Linked DNA regions of Homo sapiens: region 1 is linked to region 2. A link means that fine-mapping ties the variant in region 2 to the expression of a gene that starts in the linked region. Tissue or cell type: whole blood. Region 2 holds a variant in brackets; the other region holds the start of a gene. All regions are shown on one strand. Distances are between the middles of the regions.

Region 1 (4,878 bases), 72 kb after region 2:
CTTTGATTGAAAATGCCCACAAGGACTCCTTGAAATAGGAAAAGAGATTCCCAAAGAAAGCATTCATTTCACAGAAAGAAAGAATAGGCAAGCGTTTTAGGTAGACAAAACTCCCACCTGTACCATTTTCATTATAGTATTTTTTAGAGAGAAATTTTAATACTTAATTTTGGTTCTATTCTCCTTCATTCATTTGGTCAAAAAATTTTGTAGAGCACACTATAATCTAGACACTGTTCTGGATATTTAACAAACACAGAGAAGAAAAAGAAAAGAAGAGTCCTTCAATAGCATGACGTTAAATTTTCCCATGGATAATATAATAAATTACCACACACAAATGTATTGTCTTACATTTTTGAAGGTTAGAAATCCAAAATCAGTCTCACTGGGCTAAAGCCAAGGGGTCAGCAGAATAGATTCCTTCTGGGGGTCTTGAGTAGAATCAGTTTCCTTGCCTTTTCTAGCTTCCAGAGGCCGTCTGCATTCATTGGCTCATGATCCCTTCCCCAAATCCCTGTACCCTCTTGCCTCCATTGTCACATTTACTTCCTCTTCTGTCATCAAATCTCTCTCACCTCCCTCCTATAAAGACACTCGTGATTACATTTAGGGCTCATCTGAAAAATTTAGATAATCTTCTCCTCTCAAGTTCCTTCACCTAATCACATCCGTAAAGTTCTTTTTGCCATGGAAGGTAATATTCACAAGTTCTGGGGATTAAAAGGTGGACATCTTGAGGGAGGGGCATTATTCAGCCCTCTACAGCATAGCACGAGAAGCCCGGACAAACAAAGCAAATAAATACCACACTCTCAGACAAAGACACACATATTTCCTAAGAGAGAAACCACAAGTTATAGATAAGATGAAGAAGCCACTTTCAGCTCTGGAATCCAGTTTGGCTTCTTCCAAAATAAGAGCAAACATTTATATTGTTCGTTATGTGTCAGGCATTCTTCTAAGTTCCTTTCTTATATAACTCGCTTAAACTTCACAAAAAGTCATCCTCATTGTATAGAAGAGGAAACTAAAGCACAAAGATGTTAAGTGATTTGCCCAAGATTACACTGAACTAGCAGGGCAAGGATTTGAACTCAAAGTGTCTGATTCCCAAGTTCACATATCATTTGAGATCCAACTTAAAGAATGGATAGGCAGGCTGACACAGTGAGAAATGGAAGGGCATTATAGGCAGAGGAAACAAAGTGAACAAAGGCACTGAGGCAGAGATATGAAAGGGAGATTCAAGCCAGTGAGTAGACTGGGTTGGATGCAGCATAACAAGCCTAGGAGAAGTAGTGGGAGATCAAGCTAGAGATCTAGCTTGAAGTCAGATAGTGGAAGGTCTTGAAACCACAGACACCTGCTGTGGCTGATGAGATCTTTCAGACATTTGAGTAGAGGAGGGGGCTTGTCAGAGTTGGGCCTTGGGAAGACTGATCTGGAAGCAACGTGAAGGCTAGGAGGGAGGAGTGAGAAGGGAGCTGTCCCCGCTTCTCTGCTCCCTTAACACTTTCTATATCATAGAATGTGGCTGTGTGTCTCACCCTCTAGAGAGTGAGCCCCTGGAGGGGAGCTGAGTGTGCTGTCCACCTCTGGCTGCATGTGCCAGTGGGTGATATATTCACCTGTAAAGCACAGTACAGCTAGAGGTTAGGAGACAGGGGAACAGATGCTGGAGCTGCTGCTGCCTATGTTGATGCAAATAACAATACCGTTTGGGAATCAATCTAAAGTGTCTTTGCCTGCATCAGCTGAAGTTTCTTTTAGCATAATAACAACTGTCTGGAAATGTAGGATATGCAGATCTATATTCTAATCTTAGCTCTGTACTTGCTTTTGCAGGATTTGGAGTAGTTTATCAATACCCCAACTTGTTTCTTTTCTCTTTAAAATAAAGTAAAACTATTTTGTTTATAACTATTAACTTGTGAGGTGAGAGTTATCCAGCTTGTCATAGGGATCTGGCATAGAGACAGTACTCAACGTTATTATTATCAATCTATAATATTCTGGTTTTTTTGTTTCTTTGTTTGTTTGATATGGAGTCTCGCTCTGTTGCCCAGGCTGGAGTGCAGTAGTACCATCCTGGCTCACTGCAAGGTCCACCTCCCAAGTTCAAGCAATTCTCCTGCCTCAGCCTCCTGAGTAGCTGGGATTACAGGCGCGCACCACCACGACCGGCTAATTTTTTGTATTTTTAGTAGAGACGGGGTTTCACCATGTTAGCCAGGATGGTCTCAATCTCCTGACCTCGTGATCTGCCCACCTCGGCCTAACAAAGTGCTGGGATTACAGGGGTGAACCACTGAGCCCGGCCGATATTCTTATTTAATTTAGTCACCAAATCGCAGTTAGGACAGTGTTATTATTTTGCCCCGTTTCACAGATGAGGAAACAATCTCAGGGAAAAGAAGGGATTTACTCAAGCCATACAGTGGAGACGTCTGGATTTGAACCTACTGTGTTGGAATCTCAACTATGTGCAAACTCACAAAGGGAAATGAAGCCTTCGGAGGAAGGGCGGGACAAGGGTGACCACACAGGTGAGCGAGATGGGCTTCTAGAAGGACGCCCGCATATCTCTGAGGAACAGAGAAGGCACAGATCAAAAACACCTAGGCTCTTCACCCGTTGGCAGCCAGAGCCTGGGTCCATTGCCTAGGCAGTGGAGAAAAACCTGGTCCCCGCCCAGAAACAGCCTTCAGCGTCCTTAGCGACCAGGGCGGAACAGGCGCCGCCCGCGATGCGGGCCCTGTGATTGGCCGGATTCCTGGGCTCGGTCCCCACGCCCCGTCCCGTCCCCGGGTCTGAGAGTGTCAGCTTCCTGGGGAGAAGCACGGACCGCGCACCTCTGAGCTGCCAGGGTGGGGACGCTGCCCTAGCGGTAAGCCCCCCGACTCTGTTCTCTCCGGGCAATCAGGGCCGACACGCAGCTGCTGGGCAGGGAGGGGATTTGAGGATCACGAGTTCCGGGTCTGGAAGATTCCAGACAGGTGCAAAGAGGCTGCAGGTCCCCGGGATGAGGGGCTGCCCTAGCACAGGTCTTTAGTATTGGACTTTTGGGAAGAACCCTGGCCTAGACATCAGACCCAAGTACTGGAAACAGTCCCGTCCTTCATTCCTCTGTGACCCTTGTCAAATAACACACCCTCTCTGGGCCTTAGTTTTCCAATCTGTGAAGGAGCCTTTGGAGTAGAATGATTTCTAAAGGCCTTTCAGCCTCTGGGTGGTTCTAAAAGGGAGTGTTCAGCTGTGGCCAGATTTACTGAACTTCTGATTTTCCCTTGGCATCACTCTGTTTAAACACCTTGTGCAGGAGTTCAATTTCAGATTCATTGTATTGTTGTAGAAAGAGATCAGTGATAACAACAAAAGTCTGTCTGTCTTGTGTACAGTCTCCCTTCAGATGCATTATCTCCTTGGATTCACCCTCAAGTCCCTGAGAACAGACCTAGAATTACCCTGATCTCATAAATGGGGAAACTAAACATCAGAACTGAATATGGATTCTTCATATGTCCCACTAATGCCCTTGTTTCTGCTCTGACCTCACTGGAATTCCATCCTATGTCTTGTAGTACAGGAAGGTAGAGTCACCTAATGATTCAGTAGATCTGCTGTACAGACCTCTTAGGTGAGATTCCCAAGTCGGCTAATTACTGGTGATGTGATGTGATGTGAGTAAGTCATATAGCTACATTTTGCTTGTTTCCTCAACAGTAAAACAAAAATGATAATAGTAGTTAAAAATATCTTTCTCATGCCTTTGTTAGGAGTGTTAAGTGAGGTAATATAGGTGAAACACTTTGTCCTGCTATTATTATTGCTTGTTGTTATTGGCAAGGATGATGCAGTTCCCTAATGGAAAATCAAGAGGAACAATTTACTTATTTTCACCCCTAGGGATCTGAAGGGATTTTGAAAGGAATCATGTCTTCAGCCTGGAAGACTCCCCGTGGATCAGATGCAATGCCTGAGATCATGGTGAAAATCATTGGAAGTAAACACTTTCAATACCTCGTGGAGAAGCCAAAGATGTAAGTCCATATTTGAAAAATATCTATGTTGCTTGGATGATAATGAAGTTTTATTGTTTTGTTTTCACCCAGAAATTTAAACTTAAAAAATGCCATCCATGGAAAACGAAGTCATTAAGATGCAACAGTAGAGGTAAAATCGTGTTGATAACTTCCATGTGCACTGTTTTCCTGATATTTTTCATCTTTATAATTCCCCATACTCCTTAATTACTTGGGCTGATTTTCCAAATAGATGGGAAATATGAGCATTGCGACATTTATAAATATTAATGGAGCACTGCTGCCTTTTCTCATCGGGCTTGTAATCTACCACATGTACTAATTTTGGGGAGAGTGGGGGAGGTTTAATAGTCAATTTGTTGTGAATTACAGGAGTAGGATTAATACAGAATCATAAATTGTAAGGTTTTCACTTACTCCTGTTTGTATTTGATACTCCTCTAAGCTTGGGCTTCTCAGATCATGGCTAAGATCTCTTTCTTCTATTCCAAACCCATCAGAGTCACATTTAAGAGATGACACTCCTGTATTTCTAATATTCACCAGATGTTTCAGCACAGAACAGTATGACTAGCTCTTTCTTACAGAGTTTCAGTGGCTCAAAAAAGGAGGGAAGGTACTAGATCTGTCTTTCATATAGTAGGCGTTCCATAAGTAATAGCTAGTCAAAAATTACTTTTCCTTCCTAAGATTATTTCCTTAGCTCTATCTTCTATTTCAGAAACTCATAGACTGAACAAATATACAAAGATATGGTATTGTTGAACATAGGTGCAAGAAGAAATTTTTGCTAAACCTAGCTGTCATCAGAATCACTGGGAGAGACCTCAAA
Region 2 (6,056 bases):
TGCATTTTTTATACAGTTGATTCTAATACTGAGTCTAAATTTGCCTTCATTTATCTGTTATTCTTTCTAGAGCAAGACTGGATTAGTCTAAGTTGTAATCATTTATTCAGTGTTATTCACCTGCTTCCAGGTGGCTTCTGCTCTATTATTTCTCCAACCTCTCCAGTTCCTGTTGAGGATTTCCCGCTGCCTTTGGATTCTCAGCACCAGATGGTTTTTCTTTAACCTATGGTTGGTCCCAGGAGCCTCATTATGGTCATTCTGAAAGCAGTAGATGCAGAAAGAACCCCTAAGACCTTCAGACAAATATCTTGTATTATTCTGGGATTTCTAGGCAGTGTATAAGAGTGGTTAATAAGCTAGCATCTAAAGGGGAAGCGAAGTTCAGAACTCATAGAAAGAAGTCAGAAAGATTGAAGGAGGAGAGCGGCCTTTTGGCAGGCTGGGGAACAAACACTGAAGAGAATAAATTCAGGATAGTATGCCCAGTAAATAGACCAAAATCATATCAGGTAGAACTGGAAGAGGCTTTGAATTCACTAGCGATTTCATTCTAATATTATTGGTGAGAAAGTTGAGTGCTGCCATGGAGAAATTATATGTACAGCCATCCCATACCTGAGTTAGATTCTAATTCTCTAACACCTGACCCAGTGCTCTTTCTCCCATACTTCGTTGTTCTTTGCCCGCTCACTGCTACTCTTTCTCCTGATGGTTTCCCCCAGCCTCCAAGCCTCATTAGATTACAGTCAGTGGACCCATTTTTAGTTCTACAGAATCTGCACAGGAATTAGACATCCAACAAGGCTCCTAAAGACTTTAATCCTTAGAATCAATGGGTATAAAAATCTAGGATCTGGGAAGGAGAATTCAGATAGCCTAGTACAAATCTTTAGTTACAGAAGGGAGAAAAGGAGATGAAAAGAAAGCCCTGAATTTACTTTCCACAGGTTACACAAATTGTTACTGACATAATGATATCTGATTTTACTGAATGGTTATTATGTACCAGATGTAGTGTGCTGTGATTTTTATAATCATTTTCTTATTTATCACTCTCAAAACTCAATGAGATATGTACAATGTTGCCTGCATTTTTCAAGAAGGAAACAAAGGCATGGAGCACTGACTTATCTTACAAGAGGTTGTACAGTGAATCAACGGGTGGCAGAGCTAAGATTTAAACCCACTTGTGTTTTAACCATTACCCCAAACTATTCAGTATTTTTGCTACTCAAGCTCCCTCCAAAACAGTAGAGCACTTTCCTGTCAATACCTAAGACATAACCATCCTTTTTATTTTAAAGTCACCGAGAGAATAAAAGAACTTTACAAAGTCACACATTTGAAAGAAAATGTCCAACGTTTCACACCATTAGAGGAATATCAAGGAATTACAACCTTGGACTAGAGATGCTAAATTTGAAAAGAGCATTTTTGACTCATTTCTAAAGAATTTGAATTTACCTGGGAGCCAAATGATTAAGCCTTAAGCAAAATAAGCCAGGATCCAAGCCTGCTCTTATCTCCTAATTGGAAGTGAGGGATTTCGATTTTGTTCAACTCTGCTATGCTAATGTATCCATAGTCAAGCAGGTGCTGTTGGAGGAAAGTTGGTTTAATTGGTTTAGTGCAGGAAGTACAGGCTTTATTGTCATCCATTTATTCAACAAACTCTATTTACTGAGCATCTACTACATGTTAATATGTGATTTGCAGTCCCTGCCCCCTTACAGTGAATCACAGTATGATATAGTAAATACTACATACAGGAGTTTTGTCATTTGGCATACACTGATCACCACTGGTATAAAAGGCACTGAGGTAGGTGGCAGGAATACAGAGATAAATAAGTAAAAACTGGCCTTGTATCAAATTTGCTCACAGTAGTGGGGCAGGTGAAAATGTAAAATTCAATATGATATTATCAATGCTTTTACAGAGGTCAGTACCTAATGTTGACAGCAGCAAAAAAATAGTACCTAATTCTCCCTGGGTAAGAGGTCAGGCTGGAGTGAGAAAAAAAAAAAAAAAAAAAAAAAAACAGGAGGGAAACACTTCTAGTTTCCATGTACTTACATGAGAGTCTTTGTTCAAAAATCTCTCTAGTTATTTTTTTATTCCTGTGGTAAAATTAAAACATACTCTTTATATAGAAATAGTAGAATAGAAAATGCAGAGAAATTGAACTTAAAAATACCATTGTTAACATTTGGCTGCATTTGTCTGATCTTTTATATAGTTAGGCTTCTTGCAGTTATTTTTTTATTCTCGTACATAAATAAACAAACTCAACTAACATTTGTTGATTACCTTCCACGTGCAAGACATTGAAGATACAGAGATAATTATGACCTACCATCATTCACATGATCTGGTCATAAAGACACACACTTAAACAATTGAGTCTTAGACACTGATGAGTGCAACAGGAAATACTGATAGAGACAGCTCAGGAAACACAGTAACAAATTCCTCTCTGGTCTACTGTACATACTAATTTAAATAATATTATCCTTTTAAAAATATCATAACAAAGTCATTTTCCATTTAATGAAAACTGTTTTGTAAGATCCTCATACTGTTCTGTCAAACTATTCTTTATTTAAACAAAACTTTCAGCTGTTTTGTGATATTCGCTCTTATAAATAACTCAAATGAACATCTGTGAATATTACACATTATTTTCCTCTTTCCTTTGGCCTTAAAATACAATTGGTGGCTCAATTTTCTTTCCCAACAGCCATTTCCTGCATTTTATATATAAGCAAGCTGGTGTTCAAAGGCATTAAGTTGTTTGACCATGTTAAAATAATCAGTTAGGAGTTGATCCAAGCCTGGAATGCAGAGCATTCAGTTTTCAGGGTGATGTCTAAAGACTACCCTCTAGGTCAGGGTTTTTCAATCTTAGTACTGTTGATATTTGGGCTAGATAATTCTTTCTTGTGGGAGAGTGCCTTGGGTTTGTAAGATGTTTAGCAGCATCCTTTGCCAATAGCATCCCACATACACACCAGTTATGACAACAAAAACTATTCCCAGATATTGCCAAACACCCCCTGGGGGATAGACAATTTTCTCCCCATTGAGAGCCACTGCTCTAGGGGATCCCTGCTGCATAGATTTTGAAAGCTGTGACGATGACCCTCATTGACAGCAATGCCATTAAGAAGTCA[T/C]CCTTTTCTCTATTTAATAGATTTTCATTCACAACCATATGTAGATAAGTGAAGAAAGTGTAACCCATGAAACCTCAGCAAATTCAGGATGAAATAACCATAAAAGCCTTGAAGCTAAGCTTCCCTAAAGAACAAGAGCAAATACATTATTCTGGAAGGCTTTTAGGATTCAAGCTGGTGTCCAAGAGAATATATGATCCACGCAGACAATAAAAGGAAGGAAAAGAACATGGAAACAGACGTCAAATCCATGGCTGTTATGGTCTTCCAAGCTGCTGATCTCCTAGGATTTCTCTCAAACGACAAACCATATGGAGAGCTCATCTACCTTGCAAGAGTGTTTATGAGCCCTTGGGTAGTGATGTGAGGACTTGGGAAGACTCTGGCAGTCAGTAGGGAAGACTGTAAAGCTGGAGGAATTGCCTTCAGCTCATGCACAGGTGTCTGGCTTCTTAGAACACAGAATCAAGAGAATCAAAATCTTATAATGGGTCCTCATATGTGGCTACTGAGTGCATCTCTTGCCCTTCTGATTTCAAGGGATCATGAAAGAAGGATGCTAGTGAGTCTCCCTAAACCCATTCAACATAAAGTAAGCAGGATTTGGCACAAGTAAGCTTTGTGTGAACTGCTGTCATGTGGATACAAAAAATAGAACTGGGCAGAAATTGGCCTGGAGGCTTACCTTGAGATAAACTGCCATTCCACATAAGGGATAAAATGTTTTGTCAAAAGAAGACTCATTCATCTCCACCTCATGTGTCTTCAATCTGATGACCAAATTCTTGACCAATAGTAAATAGACTCCTAACTGTGGCAGAGGAGAAAGAGGTTCTAGAAATTACCAGCTGAGTGTTCTTGGGTAGGTTTCATCACTTCTCTGAACTGTAGCCTATTAAATTAAACAACTATTTCCTCAGGTTGTTTCAAGATTCAATGAGATGACAGATAACTTATCTAGCACAGTATCTGTTATATGCTAAGCACTCAATAAATGTTAGATGTATTTCCCTTTATCACTCTTCAATAGTCAGACTGTGCACTACTGAGCATTCTTCTTATTTTGAAGGCCTTTTGGCATTTTGCTAAATAAATTGTTTAATTAAAATCTAGCACAGAGCAGGATAATAGCCTCCGTGAGTGAAGGGATCATGTCTTGTCTTTTTCTCTAATATATTACCTTGGTGCTTGCTGTGTATTAGATGCTTGAGAAATATTTGCAGAAATAATCGAATATATGAGTATATGAATGAATAATTTGATCATACAATAAAGTCCTGGTATTGGGAAAGGGAAAGATAACATTTATTCAGTGCTTATCCTGTGCTTATCATCTTGATATACACTCTCCAGTCACTGATCCATTCAATTTTCTCAATTTTTATTCCATTTTCAGAAGATGAAACTACAGCTTAATTAACTTGACTAAGGTCATTTGGCCACTAGGAGGTTTAGCTGGGCTAGAAAACCAAGTCTGTCTACTTTCTACGCCTGCTATGGGAAGTCATGGAACTAGGAACTACCCAAAGCAGAGACCAATTCTTAACCATCTTTAATTCCTGTTATCAGTTAAATTACATACCCCCAAAATATATGATGAAGTCCTAACCCCTAGTACCTCAGAATGGGGCCTTATTTGTAAATAGGATCATTGCAGATCTAATAGTTAAGATGAGATAATCCACTATGACTGGTGTTCTTAAGAGAAAAAGAGAGACACGCAGGAAGATGACCATGTGATGAAGGAGGCAGAGATTGGAATAATGTATCTACAAGCCAAGGAATGCCAAGGGTGGTCAGCAAACAACACAAGCTGGAAGATGTAAGGCAGGGTTCTCCCCTATAGATTTCAGAGGGATCATAGCCCTACAGACACCATTATTTCAAACTTCTAGCCTCTAGAACAGTGAGACAATAAATTTCTGTTGTTTTAAGCCACCTGGTTTGTGGTACTCTGTTATGGCAGCCACAGGAAGCTAATACATACCTCTGTACAAACAATTGACTATCATATTAGAGGAGCTCGATGCATATGTATTGACTTAATTTCAACTCAACTGCCCTGGGAAGAATGCTCTTCTCTATTGCTGGAGATGTGCAAACACAAGTGGAAAAACTATTATATGGTTATGTTATTAGGGGATTTAAATCATTTCTAAGGACCCACCTAAACCAGATCCTATGAACTTGAGATCTGAAAACTTGAAGGAGAATTATTCTGGGGCTGTATTACTACATTTGGAGAGGTAACTCTGCCTAGTGTTTCTAGCACAGTTAGATTTCTATAAAGGTATCCAATCTTGTGATCTACAGCCATCAATAAGAAAAAGTATTTTTTAAATGCTGTTCAGGTATTTCTGAATGATTTACTCATCTTCAAACAGTGTTTGTACTCCATGTGCATTATGGCTTTAACTGCTTTCTTTATATCTTGCAATTTTTTAGACCTGGAAAGGAAAATGTATGTTTCAGGTATAAAATACCCTCTTGAACTAAGAAAGGAATGACTGAGACTCGCCAAGCCTTCAACAGATCCCCAAGTTCCTCACTTCCTCTTGGAACGTAAGGAGTATTAAATGACTATGAATGTGGAAACCACCAAAGCTGCAAATGAAGCAAACTGTATAAATTTAAAATTCCTGCTCTTGTGTATGTTCCTTGCTGGAAATAGAGAGCTCCTCCTTTTTATTGTTAAGGGAGTATCAGTTTATTTTTTCAGATTATTCCCACTATTGAATATTGACTTATCATTTATACAAAACTGTAAACAGGAGCCTAATACCTGAGACCAATTGTAGATTATGGAAATGTGCTCATCTTCTCTGTAGGGATTCATCTTCTTATGGGGAGAATTTCACAGAGATAAATATAATTGCTTTG

What was found. PIP is the estimated chance that this variant, and not a neighbour inherited with it, causes the effect.
Region 1: C1orf87 starts here. The variant in region 2 is the best candidate, but not a certain one, in a credible set for the expression of C1orf87 in whole blood (INTERVAL, PIP 0.78).

The regions. Positions count from the first base shown.
Region 1 is chr1:60,071,702-60,076,579 of GRCh38, reverse strand. It overlaps C1orf87 (chromosome 1 open reading frame 87), which reads left to right and starts at 2,810. Exons shown (of 12, transcript NM_152377.3): 1 at 2,810-2,890; 2 at 3,910-4,043. The coding sequence starts at 3,937.
Region 2 is chr1:60,142,718-60,148,773 of GRCh38, reverse strand. The region is part of intron 1 of LINC02778 (long intergenic non-protein coding RNA 2778); the gene reads right to left. LOC107984963 (a long non-coding RNA gene) reads right to left here and starts at 250. Exons shown (of 3, transcript XR_001738092.1): 1 at 121-250. The variant T/C (reference allele first, on the strand shown) is at 3,177.